3 separate regions of the Homo sapiens genome follow, and regions 2 and 3 are each reported to be linked to region 1. The links are microRNA targets in miRTarBase. Many come from high-throughput screens and were not tested one by one. Region 1 holds a microRNA gene; each other region holds the end of a gene's coding sequence.

Region 1 (7,201 bases):
TCATTGAAAGCTATCAAAGTATAACCTGAAAGCATTGCCCCTCCCATCCTTCATGCCATCAGAATTCATGGTGGAGGGCACTGCATGATGGGAATTCATCATCTTCCTGGCTGTTAGTGGGGACTTCCAGGAGACTGCAAACATGAGGCATTAAGAAACCATCCACCTTCTTTTCACACCTTTCATGTCCCTCATTAGCCTGAAGGTCACAGTTGAACTTAGGGGTCTGGCACTAATTTTTCTTTCTCAAAGTCAACTACTTTCTTCTCCCTTCCTTGTAGCCAATGTGGGAAAGTAGACGAAAACCTCAACATTTGGAGTTAGACCTGAGTGAAAAATCTGCCTTCTCTATTATTTTCTAGTTTTGTTTCCTTAGACAGGTCACTTTATTTCTGTGTGCCTCAGTTTCCTCACCTATAAATAAGAATAATAATACCATACCAGAGAGTTGTTGAATAAATTAGATAATACACATGAAAGAATATCATAAGTACTCCAATAAATGTGAATTTCCTTATTTATTTCCTTCAGCAAGCCCCAAGATGACAGAATGTGGCTTGTGGTCATAACTGTGCCCCAGAGCCAGCTTCATAGGCATATGACTTGTACAGCTTCACAGGGCTCCATGCTTAGAAGGACCCCACACTTAGTTTAATGTTCTGCTGTCATCATCTTGATATTCTTAATTTTTAAATAAAGGGCCTATCGTTTTCATTTTTTACTGGGCCTTGCAAATTATGTAGCTGGTTCTGTATGCCAGGAGAGAAGTTGGAAGTAAAATGGTATTCCAGGACCAGGAGGCATTCTGGCAGAGTGAAAGAACATGTGATTTGGAGTCCATGGGGATGGGTTTAAATTTCAGCTTTCCACTAATTTGCTTTGTGATACTGAGTATTTCCTTTTATCCCTCAGAGGCTCTGTTTCTCAATTTTGACTACGGGTTTTTTCATTAGATAATGTCTCAGTTCTGGTATTCCAGGTTTCCCTCAATTATTCTGGGAAAACCTCCTTGACCCACAGGCAGAGCCTAGGGCAGCCAGGTGCTTTCTACTCTCTCTCTCTCTGCAGCTTGGAAAGTTAGTGTCTGTTGAAGGTCAGCTGGGAGTTGGTGGAGGCAGGGCAGTGGCCTGCTACTATTGCTGCAGTAGCAGACCCTTTCACAACAGCATTGTTTTGTCATTTTGCATCCAGATTTCCGTTGGCTAACCTCAGTCTTATCTTCCTCATTTCTGTTTCCTGTTGAAGACACCAAGGGCCCTTCAAAACACAGAAGCTTCTTGCTCACGGCAGAAAGCCCAATTCCATCTGGCCCCTGCAGGTTGGCTCAGCACTGGGGAATCAGAGTCCCCTCCATGACCAAGGCACCACTCCACTGACAGGTATGGTATCCATTTGCCCTCTCTTCTTGGATTCTCAAGCTGGGGCAGAGTCCATGGCAGCCAAGGGTGGCTTGGATCTGCCCATCCCATTCTCTTCAGACCCTCCTCAGGGATTAAGGTCAAAGGTGGGAGGAAGAAGGCTTCCATTGGCCTTTTATCCTAGAGGTTCTAATGGAGGGGAAAAGGGGATAGGATATTTTCTATCCAATCAGGATGTTTAGGAGATAGTCACATGGAAGTGGAATGGCCTTTGGACCCAGGAGTCAGGAAACCTGAGTAGCAGTCCTGGTTTTACCATTTACCCAATGTGTATCTTTGGGTAAGTCCTTTCTCCAATCTAGGACACAGTTTTTTCACCCCTTTTGCAAAATAAAAAAGTAAAAAGAGGAAAAGAATGATTAGATAGATGCTGTCTAGAGACCCATGGTTATTAGATTCCTAATTTTCATGATTGTCAGCCCTCTGTCAAGAAAGAAGATGAGAGTAATCTTTGCATATGTAACTGTGGGTGGGGCTGAACACATTCAAGAGGAGAGTGCTGGTGGTAATCCATATAGCACTCTCTGAGAGGCATGACTCAAAGATGAAAGCCTCTTTTCTAGTCCAATCTTTGACTCCTAGAGATTCAAAATTGAAAGACTCTTAGAGACTAGGTACATATGGAAGAAACTGAGGTCCAGAAAGAGGAAGAAAGGGACTTGCCCAAAGTCATACAGAGAATCTGTAGCACAGCTGGGTCTGGGCTCCCAGGTCAGTCCTCTTTTTGCTCTATCCTAGGAGGACTGAGACATCAAGCAGCAGGACCTGTCCTGTAACTGACCCAGGACAGGTCCTGCTCATACTAGAGGCAGTCTGGGATTTTTAGGCATGGTCCTGAGGACTTCTTCTTTTCTTCTATTTTTCTTTCAGGTACTTGGCTCACTCTGAGTGTTCAGAGATTCCTAGACACCTACTTACCCCTAATTCTTCTGGTCTATTCCCTCCAATTCCCTCCATAAAAACTGACCCATCCTTTGCATCAACAATAGTGGCTTGATGACGCTCTTCAGTAGAGGATTTTGCATTTCATATGGGGAAAAATGATGTTATTCTAAGTAATATAACAGACCAAGAGAAGAGCTTTCAAATTCCCTTAATATCATCCCATATAGATATTTATGTCTTCTTTCTATGGGTCTGGTGAACATTTCTCAACTGAATGTGATTTTCTTACATACACTCCATTGGAGAGGCATACCAGTCTAGTTTCAGCTCAACCACTAACTCCTTCCATTAATACTGAAGCAATGTTGTCTATAAGGCTCCACAAATTTCAAAGTACTAATAATTTTTAGCCCCTTTCATGCCTCCTTTCCAGCCTTTCTGGAGGTGAATAAAGTCAGAAAGTGCATTCAAAAGGCTGTGAACACCTCCAGCTTATCTAGGTCTTCTTACTGGAGCTGACAGCCAATGAGTGTAATGATACAAAAAAGGTAACAATCCATTTCTTTTTCTCCTGCCATCCCCAACTCAGACTCTGTTAATCAGCTTGCTTGGCTGGCCTCCAACCATAGGTCCAGGGGCTGAGACAAGGTCCTTTTGAGCTCCTATGTGGGAGGCTCTGGAAAGCTTAGCAACACTTTCCAACAACTTTGCCAGGTAAGTAGGTAAGTCTCCTTGTTCTCATTTCCAGAGAAGACAACTGAAACCCAAAGAAAGACTTGCCCAAGCCATGATTGGCTAGTTGATGGCCAAGACAGCATTAGAACACAAGTTTGTCGATTCTGTCATGCCATATTTGGTGACCATGACTGCTGCTTTTGCTGCTGGGTGGATTAGGCTGAATTGGGTAGGTAGAAAAGGAAGTGAGGGAGTGAAAGAGCTTTAGTTTTGAGATGACTGCCAGAACTTAAATTGAAGGAGTATGTTACCTTCTTAACATTCAATTAAAAGAATAGAGCAAGAAAAGACACTGATTGTTTTCTTGCTGAAAGACAAGGCTGAATCCCTCTGTCTTACCTGGGCTGGGACAGGGCTTTCCGGCCTCATGGGGGCAGTTTACCATTTCTGGTAACCTTGTGATGTTTGCCACTTTTCATGACAATATTTAATGTAGACCAGCTACCTGCTCACAGATCAACTGCCACAGCTGGTAAGGGCAGTAATTTGACACCAGCAACCTGGGATTTTTAGCAACAGGATCTGATTGTTGCCAAGGGAATTCTCCCAGAAGTTTCAGACCTGACCCTGCTCCTGGCAGCTTCCTTATTGCCCTGGTGGCTTGTGGGTTCAGTGATCCCAAATGTTGCATTACAAAGCTATTGCCTGTTTTTGCCCTCTTTGTTGATGTGTCTTCCCTTTCCCAGAGGGATATACAGAGAAGGGAGGCAAAATAACCAATGAGGAAAGCTGTATAAGGCATACTGCTGAACTGTAAAAAATTTATTGTATAAACTTTACAAGTCTCCTCCCCAACAGGAGCCTTTGTTATCTCATTTATAACCTAAGTGAGTGAGACTAGATGATCTTTAAGGGCACTTTAATAGCTGCCATTCTTGAGTCCCTATGGGACAAGAGGATCATGTTAGGCAAGGCTGAGACCACAAGAAATCAATGTCACACCTGTCCAGATCCTGCTAAATCAATTGCCAATAGCTCTTTCTTTCATTTTGGTCACACAACCACTACTTTTTGAGCATTTGTTATGTATTGAATACTGAACCAAAGGCTTTACATGCATTATCTCCTGTCATTCTCACAATAACCTTATGAGGTAGGTATTATACTTACATACATTTTGTGGGTGTAGAAAACTTGAGCTCAGAGAGGTGAAATGATGTATCCAAGGTTGCCTAACTAGCTAATGGAAGAACTAGGATTTAAGCTCATGTTTAACCTCAAAGCCTATGTGCATAACCACAACACTGAAAACACAGCTTGGGAGAATTGAGAAGAGGGAGCAAGGATGCTGACTCTAGGGTCTGGTACTTTCCTCAAGTCAGGGAGGCAGGATGATGACCAAATTTTCCCCTCTCTGCTGCATAGAGGAACCCACTGAAGCTTGGGACCCCTAGAAATGCCATAGCTACAGGACTCAGGCCTGATGAGCTTCCAGCTGAGCACTGGGTGTCACTCGGGCTTTACCTGCTTATCTTCAGGATCTCTCTTCTGGTTAGGAACCCTATGCCTATTTTGCTCACTTCCCTATTCTGGTGCTTTGGTTGGTCCTTTGAGCAAGATCCCCGGGGCTAAGGGTGTGACTTCATCATTCCTTTCTCTCTCTTTCCCTCTAGGGTCACATCTCCCAGGAAGATCTCACTTCCCCACAGAAGCTCTTGGCCTGGCCTCCTGCAGTGCCACGCTCCGTGTATTTGACAAGCTGAGTTGGACACTCCATGTGGTAGAGTGTCAGTTTGTCAAATACCCCAAGTGCGGCACATGCTTACCAGCTCTAGGCCAGGGCAGATGGGATATGACGAATGGACTGCCAGCTGGATACAAGGATGCTCACCAAGCACCAAGTTCTCACAAGTTATTTTATGTGACTTTGCAGGAACTGAGGCATTATATCTGAGGACACCAGGGGAAAAGTGTGGCATCTCAGGGAAATACAGCCCTGGGCTGTGTCTACACACACCATGAGAGTGCTGATGGGGGCGCAATAGTCTTGAAAATGTATAAAGTGTCCAGGAATGGAAGTGCTCTTTGATTCATTATTATTTTCTTCCTTCATATTCCCCTCCCAGAGTCTCCTATCTAGGACATCAGCATTCTCACACAAGCCTAATGGCTTATCTGAGTAAGCAGGGCTTAGAAATTCACTTTCTTGATACTCAGTCTTGCCTTCTAAACACTCCTTGATCTTGCCTACCTCTCCCCTTTTCCACATGTCTTTTCCTGTAGGAACACTTTCTCCATTTATTCCTGCCTATCCAATTCTTCCCTATATTTCCTGGACCAGCTAAAGTCCAGTGTTTCCAGAGACTTTTGAAAGTCAACTTACACTTTTTCCTTCTTCATTCACAAAGCTCTTCTTCCCTGGGCCCTGGTATGTATGCCTTTCTCTCCTACTGTCTAATAGCACCTCGTAAATTGTCAATGAACTTTTCTAAGGGGTATTCTTGAATTCCCAACTAGATTGTGAGCTTCTGGAAGACAAGGCTATGTCTTTGATTGTTGTCTCCCCTACCACAGCCCAGTACTTTAGTTACAGAAAATAATAAATATTTACTGATTGATTGACTTTCCTCTTGTCCACTAGCTTTAGGTTTGGGGGCCAAATTCTACCCTGGATTTTGAAAAATTCAAACTGTGAACACCACAATGTTATAGAGCATATGAGGTAGTAGCCAGCATGAAGGATGTTTTCTTCCTGAGAAACAGTGTCAAGGGCTGGAGGAAGAGGGCAAAATAGCAGACTCAGAGGGCAAATAAATTTTGGTATTACTTGGTCACACAAGGTTATACAGGTGTTTTCTTGTAGGATTTTTCAGAGCCTTTAATAGTCTAATGTTGCATTGAGAATCTCAAAGAGGAAACCATAGAATGAGGCATTTGCCATACCTATCTGATCATGAATTTTCTTTTCCCCCACAGCCTTCTCCTGTGTCAATGTCCAATGAAGCACGATTTGGGAAACTGTCCTAGAGAAACTTTATACCTTCCCGCTCTTCTGGAGATCTTTTCCTCTTTTCATTCATCTACTTTCCCCAACCAGCCATCTGCCTAAGAAAGGTCACATGTTATCATCTCATTTTTGTTTAGCCTCTGCAGCTGTGGACTATCTTTATTACATAGGAATTCTTTACTAGCTTGTCCTGTATTTAAAAATATTCTAAGTTTTGAGGCAAAGAAGATCCAGATGCTGCAATAAATATATGCACTGAGGAGTTCACAGGCCTGACTTTTGGTCTCCTTTCTACCACTAACTGTGTTTTTGTTCCTCTCTGAGCTTCATTTTCTCATCTCCAATACGGAAGTATTAGAATCAGTGATCTCTAGGCTCTTTAAGATTAATGACTTTGAGATATCCCTGGGAGTCCTTAGCTCTTATGGAGCAGCGTCCCTGGATGTGTGGCTCCTTTTACCAGTGAAAATGCAACCAGGATTCTCTTCCCAACACCTAAAACTCACTTTTTCTATGGGTAGTAGGGAAAGATAATGGGTATTTTCAAAGGCTGTAGGGTCTGGACGCAGAGTTGTTTCATGAAGGAAGTTGGGGTTTCCACTGGGTGGAGGCCCTATTTCAGAGGCTTGTAAGCACGATGGGGAAGAAAGAGTTGTTCCTTTCGCCAACTAGGAGAAGCTAGCGTCTGGAATGAGGAAAATGTTGAGGTTTTTACCCTGGATTTGGCATGTTGGGTGGCGGTGAAGTGGAGGACTCCTTTTTGTTACTTTCGTGTACTATTTTGACTTCTGTAATCATTGCAAAAGGGGAGCAGCTCCTTGTGAAACATGAGCTGACCTAGGGGCTGCATGGGAACCAGAAATAGCAACATGGCAGCTTCCTTGAAGAGTGCAGAAGTTGATTTGACATTAATTACATCGAGAAAATAAAACTGTGTCAACCTGGGTCAGAACAGGTCCTCACAGCGGAGCCTGATTTAAAGGTGTAGGAACTTATGTACACATACAAACTCTCTCTCTCTCTCTCTGTCGTGCGCACACACACACACACACACACACACACACTCCTAGCCCTATTCCTCCTTGAAGAGAAAGGCTTTCTTGCTCTTATCCCCACCTCACATTGTAAGAAGGGGCCAGGAGCTAAAGAAGATAACATATGAAAAATGCAACTACCCCCAGGATTTTAAGATTCAAAGAAGTGGAAATCCTTGGGA
Region 2 (7,163 bases), not on the chromosome of region 1:
GGAAATTTGCCCTTTTAAGTTAGGAAGACTGACCCCCATCTTACTGCTCTCTTTCGAAGCTAGTCTAATGGAACAAGTAGACTCAGGACAACTTGGACTAAATGCACTGTAAACCACAATGGAAAAACTGCAGTGAGGTATTCCCAGTAGAAATCTTGGAATTCCTTCAAGTATATTGAGATTTTGTTAGAAATTGAATTGCCAGTGTAATCCATCTTCCTTTTGAGAAAACATTCAGATAAAGAGCTGAGGCCTAGCAGCATTAACTGTTAGAACATCCCTTAAATCAATAAGCTACAAATCTGGCCGCACATTCCTGCCGCGCCTGGTGGTGTGCTCAAGTGGCTTTAGGCTGAAGCAGCATGACTGATAGCACATCCTCAACCAGGCACATGCCTGGCGATGCAGATTCCTGTGTTTACCGTAAGCATTGCCTTGTTCCATTCTACAGAATGCAATTATATTTTGTTTCACATAAGAAAAGCAGTTTTTCTTTTTTTTTTCTTTTTTTTTTTCTTTTTTTCAGATTTTCCAAATGTGGTTATTGAAGGAGTCCTCCATGGGATATTTTACCCTCATCTACAGCCCAGGTAGAAATCCTACATGGCTAAAAGAAGCAGAAGCAAGTTTCGAAGTCACAGTCAAGGAAATCAATACCTACCAATTTAACCTAAACGCTATGATATATAACAGCTCTAGCTAGTGGTAAAGTGCACAGTCCCAGCTTAATTCAGGGCAGGGACATTTCCATTAGAATGGTGCTCTTAAAAATAGAAACTGAACCGGGGCGGTGGTCAGGCTAAGGCCAAGTGTTTAAGAAGTAGAGTGTAGCTGCCAGCGTAGAAACCCATGAAAAGGAGGCCACAGGAGATTCCTGGGAGCACTGGGTGTAGCAAAACAAAGCCACTCTCTGCTTCAGTCGCACCATTTGCTAATTGAAAATCATATCCTGAATCATACTGAGACTGATCAACTTTGGTAGCTTTTTTGTTCAGATCTTATGACACACTACTCTTCTCACCGTGAGATTTTCTCAGCCAGTGATAGTACATTCTGAAATGCTGGCACCAGGAGACGGCCACAGACACACACTGCTAAATGTGAAGATGGAACTAAACTGGAAATTAAATTATACTGACAATATTATGGCATTTTTAAGATCATGGCATTTTAATTTACATTAGAGTGGAGTTGCATCATACTCAGGGGTTAGCTTCCAAGGTCAGTACATAGGTAAAATGGGCTATTAGGATGATCCTTGAAAGCCCTTTAGAAGGGTGCCATGTTGGAAACCTGTACATCCACAACAAGTAGCTTTTCCTCCTATGTTGGAAAAAAAGACTGTTTCTTTGTTTGAAGACCAAGTGAAGTTGTTGGTGTTTGTTTAGGGGCCATTTTGTTAAAAAAAAAAAAAAAAAAGCACATAACTTTTAACACTAGAATCAGCCCGCAAGATGCTTGCCCCGCTAGTGGCAGATGTGAACTGACAAGGAGTGAAGCGCCCACCCAGCGGATGGACAGCACCCACCTGGGTTTACTCAAGGGTGTGCATTCATTTTAGGTGGGATCGCCACAGGATTTCATGTTATTTTCCTTACGGCTTCCTTTTCACTGACCTCATTTGTTGAGTTAATGTAAGTTAAATGTGTTTATGATATAACTCCACTGTACATCATCCTTTGAGTAGTAAAGGATAAAAGCATATATACTACCTATATGTATGTGCTGTATGTGGGCATTTCATTGAGATCTAATTAATAGCTAGCCTATTTATGGTTATTCGTTTTAGTAAGTTCTGTGGGAGCAAGGTATTTAAAATCAAAACTAATAACTACATCATGGTTTTTGATTAGGATCTAAATATTCAGGTTTTAAGCCTGCTGCAAACTTTTAAAATATTATGATAGATTCTGTACTACATGTGGGAAACAAGCAAGAACTAAATAATCAAATGTTGTCAACCAAAAGTAATAGTTGGGTATTGGAGATTTTTTTAAAATGTTTTTATGTTATTAGCTATTTGGAGTTAAATAAAAACAGAACAAGGAAACATTTGAGTTTGTCTTCTCCTAAGATTTCACTGGAAACATGGTTTGTATCTGTCTGTTTACACACACACACACATATGTGCACACACAAAACCTCTCACACATTCACATAGATGTTTATTTCTAATATGATAAGATAAATTATTATAATAAATTATCTCATCTATTAAGTCAGTAGATGTTCATTAAATATTTGATGATTTACCAAGATAATAAGAATTTTTTTGAAAAAACCAAGTATCTATAGTGGTACACTGCCCAAGAAATCTTTTCTGAGAATTAAGTTTTTTCTTAGTGATGACTTTCGCTTTTTATATTTATGTAAATTTTATTTCCCATGTCAAACAAGTCATATGCAGACATCATAAGATTTGCAGGAGGCACACCTCACAAGAGTGGGAAAACCCAGTCATCACACTTATGCACTACACAAGGATCATATCTATTTAAACTTTTAATGTGTAATTCTGTCAGGGTTATTGAAGGAACTAGAAACCAGTGTAGGTCTTTTACGCAGAAAAGGCTATAATGCTGAAAACTGAATGCTTACAGAATCTGTTGGAAGGGTGAGAGGAGTGCACTCCTGGTAGGTGTCCAAGAACAAATTCCAGAATGCCCCAGCAACTTCTAGCACTGACCTGCCTGGGGAGCTACAGCCTGTGCTGTAAGCAGGAATACAGGGAGTTAGGGGGCTGTGAGCGAAGCTCTTGAGGTAAACAGCATGAGAGCTGCAATCCAGGGATCAGCAAGTAGAATCAAAAAGGACCTGTTATCTCCATGAGATACGGAGCTCCCAGGAAATATAATGGCGATCTCTCTATGAGGTGCGGCCTCATAGCAGCACCCAGGAAGCTGGTGACTGGGCCTGCATCACAATTGCCTATCAACATCCGTGGCCTTGCTTGCCAGCAACCACAGCCCAAAGTGGCAGGAGGATGGTATTCGCCCACTCCCACCTCCCACTCCATAGCTCCCTTCAACGCACATCCAGTTTGTAGAACCTTATTCTCCATCCCAGGTGCAGGGAGTCTGGGAAGAAGCTGCTAGCCTTCTACAGCTCAGGAATGCACATGGGAAAGATGATGGAACTTTTTTTTTTTTTTTGAAGACGGAGTCTTGCTCTGTTGCCCAGGCTGGAGTGCAGTGGCACAATCTCAACTCACTGCAACTTCTGCCTCCTGGGTTCAAGCATTCTCTGCCTCAGTCTCCTGGGCAGCTGGGATTACAGGCGCATGCCACCACGCCTGGCTAATTTTTGTATTTTTAGTAGAGACAGTGTTTCACCATCTTGGCCAGGCTGGTCTTGAACTCCTGACCTCGTGATCCAACCACCTTGGCCTCCCAAAGTGCTGGGATTACAGGCATGAGCCACCGTGCCCAGCCAGAACATATTTCCATCATTTCCATGGTTGAAAATTTAATAAAAAATATATAAAACTATAGATAAAAAATAAATTTGTCTCCCATCTCATCTCCTAATACCGAATTCCCGTTCCACAGAAGGGAGTACTTAATGTGTCTGTACTTAATGTGTCTACTTTGAGTAATATTTCATCTACATACAAGCAGATATTGTATGTTTAGTGTACATATATTTAATTTCTCCTCTTTTACAAAAATGGTAGCACGCAATACCCATTGCTTTCTATTTTTTTTTATTTAACAATATCTTGGCAATCTTTCTGTATCAGTATATAAAGTGCTATTCTCTTTTTAAAAAAAAAAAGCTGTATGGATCTTCTATAATTTGTGTAACCACTACCATATTGATAGACATTTTACTTTTCGATTTCACTAGGCATGCCTGGCCCATATTGCTCTACAGGTTGTGCATTGCACAAGTCCAAGCAGTGTCATTCACATGGACCACAGTGTTAATAGTATTCCAAGTCATGCTTGGAACCCTGCACTTGGGGAAATATCAAAAACTTTAATCATTCAAACCATGGATTCACAGGCAATAGAGAAGTAAAGGACAGAGAAAGGAAACCAGAGGAAGGAAAAGGAAAAAAAAAATCCCATTACCACTTAAGTCAGGATGTGGGGACATCATTTGTCCTGCCTGGTTCCTGGACTTGGTGTTTTGCCTGGACTGTCTTCGATGCTACCTTATGCAGTGCCTCTCAGGCCTCATCTCTGCCTACTCATTCTGCATATTGGCAGCCCTCGTGTCCTTTCTCCTGGTGTCCTTGTTACTGCCCCCATTACAATCAGCCATGTGAACAACCCCAATATCACCATGACCATCAATACCTGGTAAATCCTACAGTTACAGTTATAAGTTCCCATTGAAAAGAAGTTGAGCTCTCTTAATCAGTTTAGAGAAATATGATCACACTTTTGAAATAACAGATGGTTTTCATCTCATTTGTCAACTTTGATCGATTGACAATGGCTGCTTGAAGTGCTGCATCAAGAAGAATTCTGGCACACCTGTGAGGATGGCTACTATCAAAGCAGAAAATAACAAGTGTTGGTGAGGAGGTGGAGAAATTGCAACCCTTGTAACTGTACATTGCTGGTGGAAGTGTGAAATGGTTGCAGCCTCTGTGGGAAATGGTATAACTTCTTCAAAAAATTAAGCATTGAATTGCTATGTGATTCAGCACTTCCACTTCTGGATATATACCTAAAAGAAGAAAGCAGGGACTCAAACAGCTATTTGTATAATGATATGGTTTGGCTGTGTCCCCACCCAAATCTCATCTTGAATTAATCTTAGTTCCCATAATCACCACAGGTCGTCAGAGGGACCTGCCAGGAGGTAATTGACTCATGGGAGCAGTTACCCCCATGCTGCTGTTCTTATGATAGTGAGTGAGTGCTCGTGAGATCTGATGGTTTTATGAGGGGCTTTTCCCCCTTTTGCTTGGCACCTCTCCTTCCTGCCATCATGTGAAGAAGGATGTGTTTGCTTCCCCTTCTGCCAAGATTGTAAGTTTCCTGAGGCCTCCCCAGACATGTGGAACTGTAAGTCAATTAAACTTCTTTCCTTTATAAATTACCCACTCTCGGGCAGTCCTTTATAGAAGCATGAGAACGGACTAATACATATATTCATGTTCATAGCATATATTCATAGTAGCCAAAAGGTGGAAACAACCCAAGTGTCCGGCAATGGATGAATGGATAAAAAGGAAATTCTGACACATGCTGCAACACAGATGAACCTTGAAGACATTCAGAGACATAAGCCAGTCACAAAAAAGCAAATACTGTATGATTCCATTTCTATGAAGTATCTAGCGTAGTCAAATTTATAGAGACAGAAAGTGGAACTTTGGTTGACAGAGGCTGGGGGAAAAGAGGAAATGGAGAATTAGTGTTTAATAGGTTTCAGCTGGGGAAGATGAAAACATTCTGGAGCTGGCTGGTGGTGATCATTGCTTAACAATGTAATGTACTTAATGCCATAGTATTGTACACTAAAAATGGTTAAAATAAATTTTATGTCATGTATATTTTACCACAATAAAAACAATAAAGGCTTTTGAGTGACTGCAGGCTCAGAGAATAAGGCTGTACTGATCAGGTAGCACTGTCTGTCGTGGGTGCAGGAGAGCTTTTGGCACACATACCAGTTACTAGTCTCACATCCCTGGCAACCTCTACAATCCTGAAACAGTAGTTCTAAACCAGAGATTTGCATCAGAATCACTTGGGATTCTGAATCAATAAATCTGGCCAGAGACCTGTCCTTGGGTAGTTAGAAACACCACCCAGTTCACTCTGATACACACCTGTATTAGGGACCACCAATTGATGGAGATGGTTTATGACCCACCCTTTAGCCATCTTGAATTATTTATTGACTTTCATAACTCCTTCAGAATCCAGTACCAAGAGAACATCTGTTCAACTCTTGGGGGTGTTTGTTATATGAGGTCACAGGAAAAGACCCTGAAGAAGCAGGAAGGACAAGTTTGGGTAGTGGTCTCAATAGATGCACTATACATAATTGGGAAGTTGTATATTCATTCATTCAGTTGTTCAGTGAAATGCATTTGGGTCCCCCCACTGGATTAAGGCACTATGTTAATTACTTAAAGAATACAGATGTAATCCTTGCCTTCTGGAATTGTTGGCCATTTACTAGGAAGGGTTTTTCCATCTTAATGAATTGGACATAAAGTTCAGTGATTAAGGCTGTCTTCTTCCAGTCTCTCTACTCCTTGCAAGTAATTATTTTCATTTTGGCTTTGTTTTGGTTTTTATTCTTGATGATAATTACAGATTTTGAATTCAGCAGCGGAAACACAGGGAAGTAGCAGGCAGTAACTCAAAACCAAAATGTCTGCAACGTTTATGTTTTCTGTCTGTGCAGATACATAGTGACAGACTGGATTCTGATGAGGGTGAAGGTCTATTTTTGTGTGACGGGAAGGAGGGCATATTATCTATGTTAAGTCATTGGAATACACTTAATTTACTAGAAGAAAATTTTGTGTCCTAAGAATGTGGTTGTAAATCTGGCCTATAAAATGTGAACCATTTTCTGTTTTCATTACACTTAACAGTAGTTACAGTGACAGCTAGGACATTGGTGTCCCTAGCTACAATATTCTATGTCATTTAGATACTCCTATGAACTCCTATGTACTGAGTTTCTACTGGATGTCATGTATTGTTGGACTAGGGTTTTGCATATTTTATCACGTTAAGTTCTTTACAGAGTAGTTTTTAGTGCCCCATTTTACTGAAGAAGAAATTGAAGATCAGAGACATTAATAAAAATAGTAGCTAACATGAATGAATACTAATTTAGGGGCCAAGAGGCACTGGGCTAAATCATGTTAATGGACCATCTCATTGAAGCTTCACAACATCTTTAAAAATGTGTGTATTCTTATTCCAATTTAAAGTGATTAAAAGGAAGCTTAGAGAAGTGAAATAGCTTGACCAAGGATACCAGTTAATAAAGCTTGGGCGAATCCAGTCCCTAATCAGCCTCACAATAGAATTGTATTTATGTGCTTTTTTGGAGATGGGGTCTCCCACTGTTGCCCAGGCTGGAGTACAGTGGCATGATCTCGGCTTACTGCAGTCTCCACCTCCTGGAAACAAGCAATCATCCCACCTCAGCGTACCAAGTAGCTGGGACTACAGGCACACGCC
Region 3 (7,201 bases), not on the chromosome of region 1:
TGTCCTTGAATTTTTAATAGCTTCGCTAGGATTAAAAGTCAACACTTCACCATGCCAGTGTATTAGAAGAATCTTCCTGAAGTCTGATTATTGTTTGCCAGTTAATAGACTTTTCAATTAAAAAATATTTGCTCTGTCGTACACTTTTCCCTCCCCGTGTTTTCCAATGGCAAGTCGTTTTGAATCTCTTTTCCCTGTATTAGTCCAACAACTGTTAAAAAGCTTTGGTTGAAATTTTTTAGCTGAGAGAGAAATACAAATAAAAGAAGAAGCAGATGGTCCCTTTGTGACTGAATGAAGAAAAAGAGGTTTGAGAACAATATGTGAATAGGTGTAGTCTAATAAAACACTCAGCCACCTGCTGCCTGAATCCTTCAAAAAAGATTCTGTTGCATATTCTGGGGATTAACTATTAATGTATCCTTAGGTTTGATAGAAAACATAAACTTTGAGGGGTTTAGGCCCTCTTCTCCCTTTGTTTTGATTGAGTTGGCTCCTCTATATTTGAAATTGTTTCTCAATTCAATTTATCTGCTCAAGGGTATAATTAAAGGTTTTCTGACTCATGGCTAAATGAAGGAAAGGTAAGAAGAATGGACTTGTGGGCATTTCTTTTCTACCTTTGTTTTAAATTTTCTGGGCTCTTCCGACAGGCTTGCCCTTGCAGAGACAGAAGCAAGAGGCCTAGTGTGTCTGCAAAGAATGAATAAATATTTAGGTGCTTTTCTTCTTAAAATGCATTTTGATCCTTATTTGCGGACTTGCTTTCCCTTTCAGGGATTTACTCTTCAACCCGACTATCAGACTATTATCAATCCTACATCTACAGCTGCACAAGTTGTCACCCAGGCAATGGAGTATGTGCGTTCGGGGTGCAGAAATCCTCCCCCACAACCGGTGGACTGGAATAACGACTACTGCAGTAGTGGGTAAGCGGCCGGTCATCGCCACCTGGTGGTGGACAGCGCTCATAGCATGCATATCGTCCCTAGTTGATCGTTCTCTTGTTTCCAAAAACATGATCCGGGATAGTTTCACGTTCATGAAGGCAGAAGACACCAGAAATTGTTAAGCAGTCTTCTAGCTCTTCCAAGAATAAATGCCTTTAGCTCACTTCTCACTTCAGATGTAGGTTAACTAATTGCAGTTTCCCAGTGAACAGCTCAAGCTGGAGCAAATAATTCAAAGACATCCATCCCCCCATTGTCACCTGTAGCACAGGTTGTCCTGTAACAAGGAACTGTCTTTTTTCTCTTCCTACAGGGGCATGCAGAGGGACAAAGCACTGTACCTTACTTGAGAATCTGAACACCTCTTCTTTCCACTGAGGAATTCAGGGAAGTGTTTTCACCATGGATTGCTTTGTACAGTCAAGGCAGTTCTCCATTTTATTAGAAAATACAAGTTGCTAAGCACTTAGGACCATTTGAGCTTGTGGGTCACCCACTCTGGAAGAAATAGTCATGCTTCTTTATTATTTTTTTAATCCTTTATGGACATTGTTTTTCTTCTTCCCTGAAGGAAATTTGGACCATTCAGATTTTATGTTGGTTTTTTGCTGTGAAGTGCTGCGCTCTAGTAACTGCCTTAGCAACTGTAGATGTCTCGGATAAAAGTCCTGGATTTTCCATTGGTTTTCATAATGGGTGTTTATATGAAACTACTAAAGACTTTTTAAATGGCTTGATGTAGCAGTCATAGCAAGTTTGTAAATAGCATCTATGTTACACTCTCCTAGAGTATAAAATGTGAATGTTTTTGTAGCTAAATTGTAATTGAAACTGGCTCATTCCAGTTTATTGATTTCACAATAGGGGTTAAATTGGCAAACATTCATATTTTTACTTCATTTTTAAAACAACTGACTGATAGTTCTATATTTTCAAAATATTTGAAAATAAAAAGTATTCCCAAGTGATTTTAATTTAAAAACAAATTGGCTTTGTCTCATTGATCAGACAAAAAGAAACTAGTATTAAGGGAAGCGCAAACACATTTATTTTGTACTGCAGAAAAATTGCTTTTTTGTATCACTTTTTGTGTAATGGTTAGTAAATGTCATTTAAGTCCTTTTATGTATAAAACTGCCAAATGCTTACCTGGTATTTTATTAGATGCAGAAACAGATTGGAAACAGCTAAATTACAACTTTTACATATGGCTCTGTCTTATTGTTTCTTCATACTGTGTCTGTATTTAATCTTTTTTTATGGAACCTGTTGCGCCTATTTATGAAATAATAAATATAGGTGTTTGTAAGTAAATTTGTTAGTATTTGAAAGAGGTTTCTTTGATGTTTTAACTTTTGCTGGCAAAAAAAAATTCACGCTTGGTGTGAATACTTTATTATTTAGTTTTTACAGTAACATGAATAAAGCCAAACCTGCTTTTCATTTAGCAGCAAATTAAAGTAACCAGTCCTTATTTCTGCATTTCTTTGGTTGATGCAAACAAAAAACTATTATATTTAAGAACTTTATTTCTTCATACGACATAACAGAATTGCCCTCCAAGTCACACAAGCTCCAAGACTAAACAAACAGACAGGTCCTCTGTCTTAAAAAGGTTACTTCTTGGTTCTCAGCTGGTTCTAGTCAATTCTGAACCACCACCCCCCGCCCCCCGCAAAAAAGTAAAAGTCAAACCAAACTTCCTCAAGCTGCATGCTTTTCACAAAATCCAGAAAGCATTTAAGAATTGAACTAGGGGCTGGAAGAAGTGAAAGGGAAGCATCTAAAAATGAAAGGTGAGTAACCAGATAGCAAAAGAAAAGGGAAAGCCATCCAAATTTGAAAGCTGTTGATAGAAATTGAGATTCTTGCTGTCTTTTGTGCCTCTACAAGCTACTACTCATTCCAGAATTCCTGGGTCTTCCAAGAGGATTCTTAAGGTACCAGAGATTTGCTAGGGAACCAAAAGTGCTTGAGAATCTGCCTGAGGGCTTGCATAGCTTTCACATTAAAAAAAGAAAAAGCTAGCAGATTTACTCCTTTTTAGGGGATCATATCAAGAAAGTTAGTCTGGTTGGAAACCAAGAGAATGGCTGATGTCTCTTTCTTGGAATATGTGAAATAAATTTAGCAGTTTAACTAAATACAAATATATGCATTGTGTAATCCACTCAGAATTAAACAGACAAAAGGTATGCTTGCTTTGGAATGATTTTAGGCATTGTACAACCTTGAATCACTTGAGCATGTAATAACTAATAAATAATGCAGATCCATGTGATTATTAAAATGACTGTAGCTGAGAGCTCTAATTTTCCTGTCTTGAAACTGTATAAGAACTCATGTGATTAAGTTCACAGTTTATTGTTTGTCTGTTTAGTATTTTAGAAATATACCAGCACTACTAATTAACTAATGTCTTTTATTTATTATATTATGATAAAGTAAAAATTTCACTTGCATTAAGTCTAAACTGAGAAGGTAATTACTGGGAGGAGAATGAGCAGCTTTGACTTTGACAGGCGGTTTGTGCAGGAAAGCACAGTGCCGTGTTGTTTACAGCTTTTCTAGAGCAGCTGTGCGACCAGGGTAGAGAGTGTTGAAATTCAATACCAAATACAGTAAAAACAAATGTAAATAAAAGAAAACACATCATCAATAAAACTGTTATTATGCGTGACCGTATTCTATTTGGTGATCCATCAGTCTCTAAAAAGCAAGCCTAGTCAGATGAGAAATCCCAAATAAATTTTATGGTGGAAGTGATCGGGCAGAGTGGGGGTTAATGGCCGCCATGGCCACAAATGTTCTTTCCTGAAACTCTGAGAATGCCCTCTCACTAACCTGAGGCTCTAGTATAGTGAGCTGTTGCCTAGGAAATCCCCATCTTTCAGAAAGCCAGAATCCACCCTGGGCACAGTAGCCCAGCGGCTTGGAGCTTGTAGCTGAGAGGAACAGTGGGGGTGCACGCCGAGTTCTCTGCTGAAGCACTCCGAAGATTTCCAGCACCATCAGTAAAGTCATTCTGAGAGATAACAGCAACACTGTGGAACGACAGATTTCTTCACCAACACACCAAAACCAAAATTATAGCTGATTAGAAAAAGAAAAAATTGCGAGAGTGTGTAGGAGTGGGTTGAGTTGTGTCTCTAACATAATCGAGAAATGATTAAGAAAGAATAATTCAAAAATCCTGATTCCCATTCAAATGTGACCGAGTTGATAAGGCAAAATGAGTCAAATAATGACTTCCAGTTAGTCAAATTATAGCCAAGGATGAAGTTGGTCTCTGTGATTATTTTTATTATTTGTGTTAAACGCAAAGAGGCCTGTCTGCATGGACCACAAGCAGTCCATGGGAAGCCGTGGCCACCAAAGCAATACAGTCAACCCTCGAACAATGCAGGGGTCGGGGCACCAACTCCTCCCCACACCCACGCAGTTGAAAATGCCTATGCAACTTTGACCCCCGCAAAACTTAACTACTAATAGCCTATTGTTGAGGAGAAGCCTTACTGATAACATAATCAGTTGAGTGACACATATTTTCTATGTTTTATGTATTATATACTGTATTCTTAAAGTAAGCTGGAGAAAAGAAAATGTTATTAAGAAAATCATAAAGAAGAGAAATAAGTTATTAACTAGTGTCAATAAGTGGAAGTGGATTATCATAAAGGTCTTCATCCTCTTCTTCATATTGTATAGGCTGAGGAGGAGGAGGAAGAAGGGGGTTAGTCTCGCTGTCTCAGATGTGGCAGAGATGAAAGAAAATTTGCACATAAGTGGACTTGCTTGCTTCAAACCCTTGTTAATCAAGGGTCAATGTATACTCTGGCTCAGATTCATTACTAAGATATTTCTTAAACTTATGAATGCATGACTTAAAATTAGCACATCAACAACCAATCCCTTTTCTATGGATCTCTTGCCCTTTGCAAAAGAGTTGTCCCACTCATTGGAAAAGTGATTAGACTGAACCATATGAAATTGCTAATATTTGACCTGTTTTATCTATGAAATGGTAATTTCATATGATTCAACCAAAAGGTGTGGGAATTAGAGACAATGGGGTTTTGACCATAACTTGATATGTAATTTCAAATGGAATTAGAAGTACTTTACAAAGTCCTGGGAGAAAATGCTCAAAGGAATAATCAATTATGTTTGTTTACAAGGTACCCCACTTAGAATGAGTCCTAGACAGGTATGTTATATTAAACAAGGAATATTTTAAATTACCAGTAAATCCCAATAGCCATTCATATTTCTTTGTTATAGTAAAAAATTCATATGAACATTTGTAATAAATAGGTTATCTGCTGGAACAGAAAGTTTTTGTTAAACATAGACGTCCTCATGTTTATCCGTTAAATAGAGATTTGACCTACATTTTCTTATTCCACTCATAATTGTCATTTTCTTTTTTTTTCTTTTATTTCTTTTTTTTTTTTTTTTCTGGAGACAGGGCCTCACTGTGTCACCCAGGCTGGAGTGCAGTGGCACAATCTTGGCTCACCACAACCTCTACCTCCCGGGCTCAACCAATCCTCCCACCTCAGCCTCCCAAGTAGCTGGGACCACAGGTGCATGCCAACACGCCTGGCTAATTTTTTTCTATATTTTGCAGTGACAGGGTTTTGCCATGTTGCCCAGGCTGGTCTTGAACTCCTGGGCTCAAGCGATCCACGTGCCTCAGCCTCCCAAAAGTGCTGGGATTACAAGCATGAGCCACCGTGTCCAGCCATAATTGTTATTTTCAAGGAAGGATAGAAACAGAAAATTCATCTCTTTTGCTGATTATTAAATATTAAAATAGTGGCAAGGCAAGGTTAAAAATTCGTATCATGAGTTTAACCTCTAAATCTAAGTCACCCTTCCACTTAATGGTTGAATTCATGTGAGTCACCCCATGGTAAAAATCTCTTTGTCTGCCTGAAATTCAACAATTTCCTTATCTCCAAAACAATTTGGAATGTCATAGCACACAGTAGATGCACAAAAAATGCAATGATACAAAGAAAGATCAATAAAACATCATCAATTATCCTCAACAGGAATTGTATGGTGTTTTCTTGATGATTTAAAGGCTCTTTAAATATAGATGGGAATTGAATATTACAGGCAAGCATTAGGAGTGAAGATGCAAATGTTTCATTAAAAACCTAGGGTTACAAAAAGATTGAAAGAATTTCAAAATGAGTTATGCCATATTTTTTTGGCCTACATAGTTGAACAAGAGCTTTTCTATTTGTGACAAAAGTAAAAGATCTAATACACACTAGTCTCACCAAGAAAATAAGAAGGGAGAAAAGAGGTGCTAGACATGTAGGGTGTCAAACACAAGAGAGAACATTCAGGAGACAAGTTTCATGGATTCTAAATTAAACTATTGATGAACAGGATACTGAATTTTTTTTTTCTAATTACCAAGTGTTAGTATGACTTGGTGAAGCAAGGAAAAGACTGTATTTCCTGGTTCTATTTTTTAGGATTTTCAAAGGCGATTTCTCTACTTTTATTTGGAACGATTTCCCAGTGTGGAAAACCTTTCCTAACAAAAAAAAAGTCTCCAAATCTGTACACAAGACCATTGCTTGGAGAAAGGGGATGGGGAGCCCCCTAACCTCACCAACCACGGAGGAGGAAGGCTGGGAGCCGCGGGAGGAAGAGGTAACTTCAAACCCAAGTTAGACACACTTGGCAATCTACGTGTACACAGAGAGATTAGACTTTGCCTTCTCATTTCATACTTAGCCAAACATCTTGTCATTTGTATCCAGCATCAGCCTGCAATGTAGTAGATGAGAAGAAGTGAAGATGAAGTTCTTGTTCCCGGATGAGAGACAACTGAGAACAATGACCTGTTATAGTTCAGCACGGTCAGAGTTGCGCCTAATTAATGAAGCCCACCAGCAGGAATCATTTCACATTTTATTAACAGCTTGCTAGCAAAGACATTTGAAAGTGAAATTTTATTCACACTGACATGAGGCCAGAAGAAAAGAACAGTGACTAGAAAATAAAATGGAAAGACTTACGATACTACAGAGAAAACAAAAATCCCATTCTAAAGAAAGAGTATGAACCAAACTACAGTATTTTAAAGTCTGGAGCGTCCCTGTTTGACAATTGTATGTTTACAATAAGCCCAAACATAATTGCTCTGATAGGCTGTCAGGGAAAAGATTAATTTGGCAAAGATTAGTATTGACTTGCTGTTTATTAAGGCTTTTAAACAGCTGTATCTG

What was found. Region 1 holds the annotated microRNA hsa-miR-223-3p (UGUCAGUUUGUCAAAUACCCCA, at 4,765-4,786, shown strand). A microRNA usually pairs through its seed, bases 2 to 8, with sites in the 3' UTR of a target mRNA and lowers its output. Matches are read on the target gene's strand: a 7mer-m8 pairs with bases 2 to 8, a 7mer-A1 pairs with bases 2 to 7 and ends in A, and an 8mer does both.
Region 2: the mRNA of SNX24 is a reported target of hsa-miR-223-3p. Seed matches in the 3' UTR shown: 7mer-A1 at 1,134-1,140 and 8mer at 1,482-1,489.
Region 3: the mRNA of TOX is a reported target of hsa-miR-223-3p. Seed matches in the 3' UTR shown: 7mer-m8 at 1,860-1,866.

The regions. Positions count from the first base shown.
Region 1 is chrX:66,014,173-66,021,373 of GRCh38, forward strand. It overlaps MIR223 (microRNA 223), which reads left to right and starts at 4,698; the gene lies at 4,698-4,807. It overlaps MIR223HG (MIR223 host gene), which reads left to right and starts at 1,289. Exons shown (of 3, transcript NR_170299.1): 1 at 1,289-1,379; 2 at 2,893-3,017; 3 at 4,652-6,254.
Region 2 is chr5:123,007,156-123,014,318 of GRCh38, forward strand. SNX24 (sorting nexin 24) reads left to right here. Exons shown (of 7, transcript NM_014035.4): 7 at 527-2,050. The coding sequence ends at 594. It overlaps LOC124901213 (small nucleolar RNA U13), which reads right to left and starts at 2,485; the gene lies at 2,387-2,485.
Region 3 is chr8:58,801,846-58,809,046 of GRCh38, reverse strand. TOX (thymocyte selection associated high mobility group box) reads left to right here. Exons shown (of 9, transcript NM_014729.3): 8 at 778-929; 9 at 1,264-3,635. The coding sequence ends at 1,300. Among named protein-coding and RNA genes, the nearest start is that of NSMAF, 150 kb to the right of the region's middle. RefSeq lists an enhancer at 803-1,097.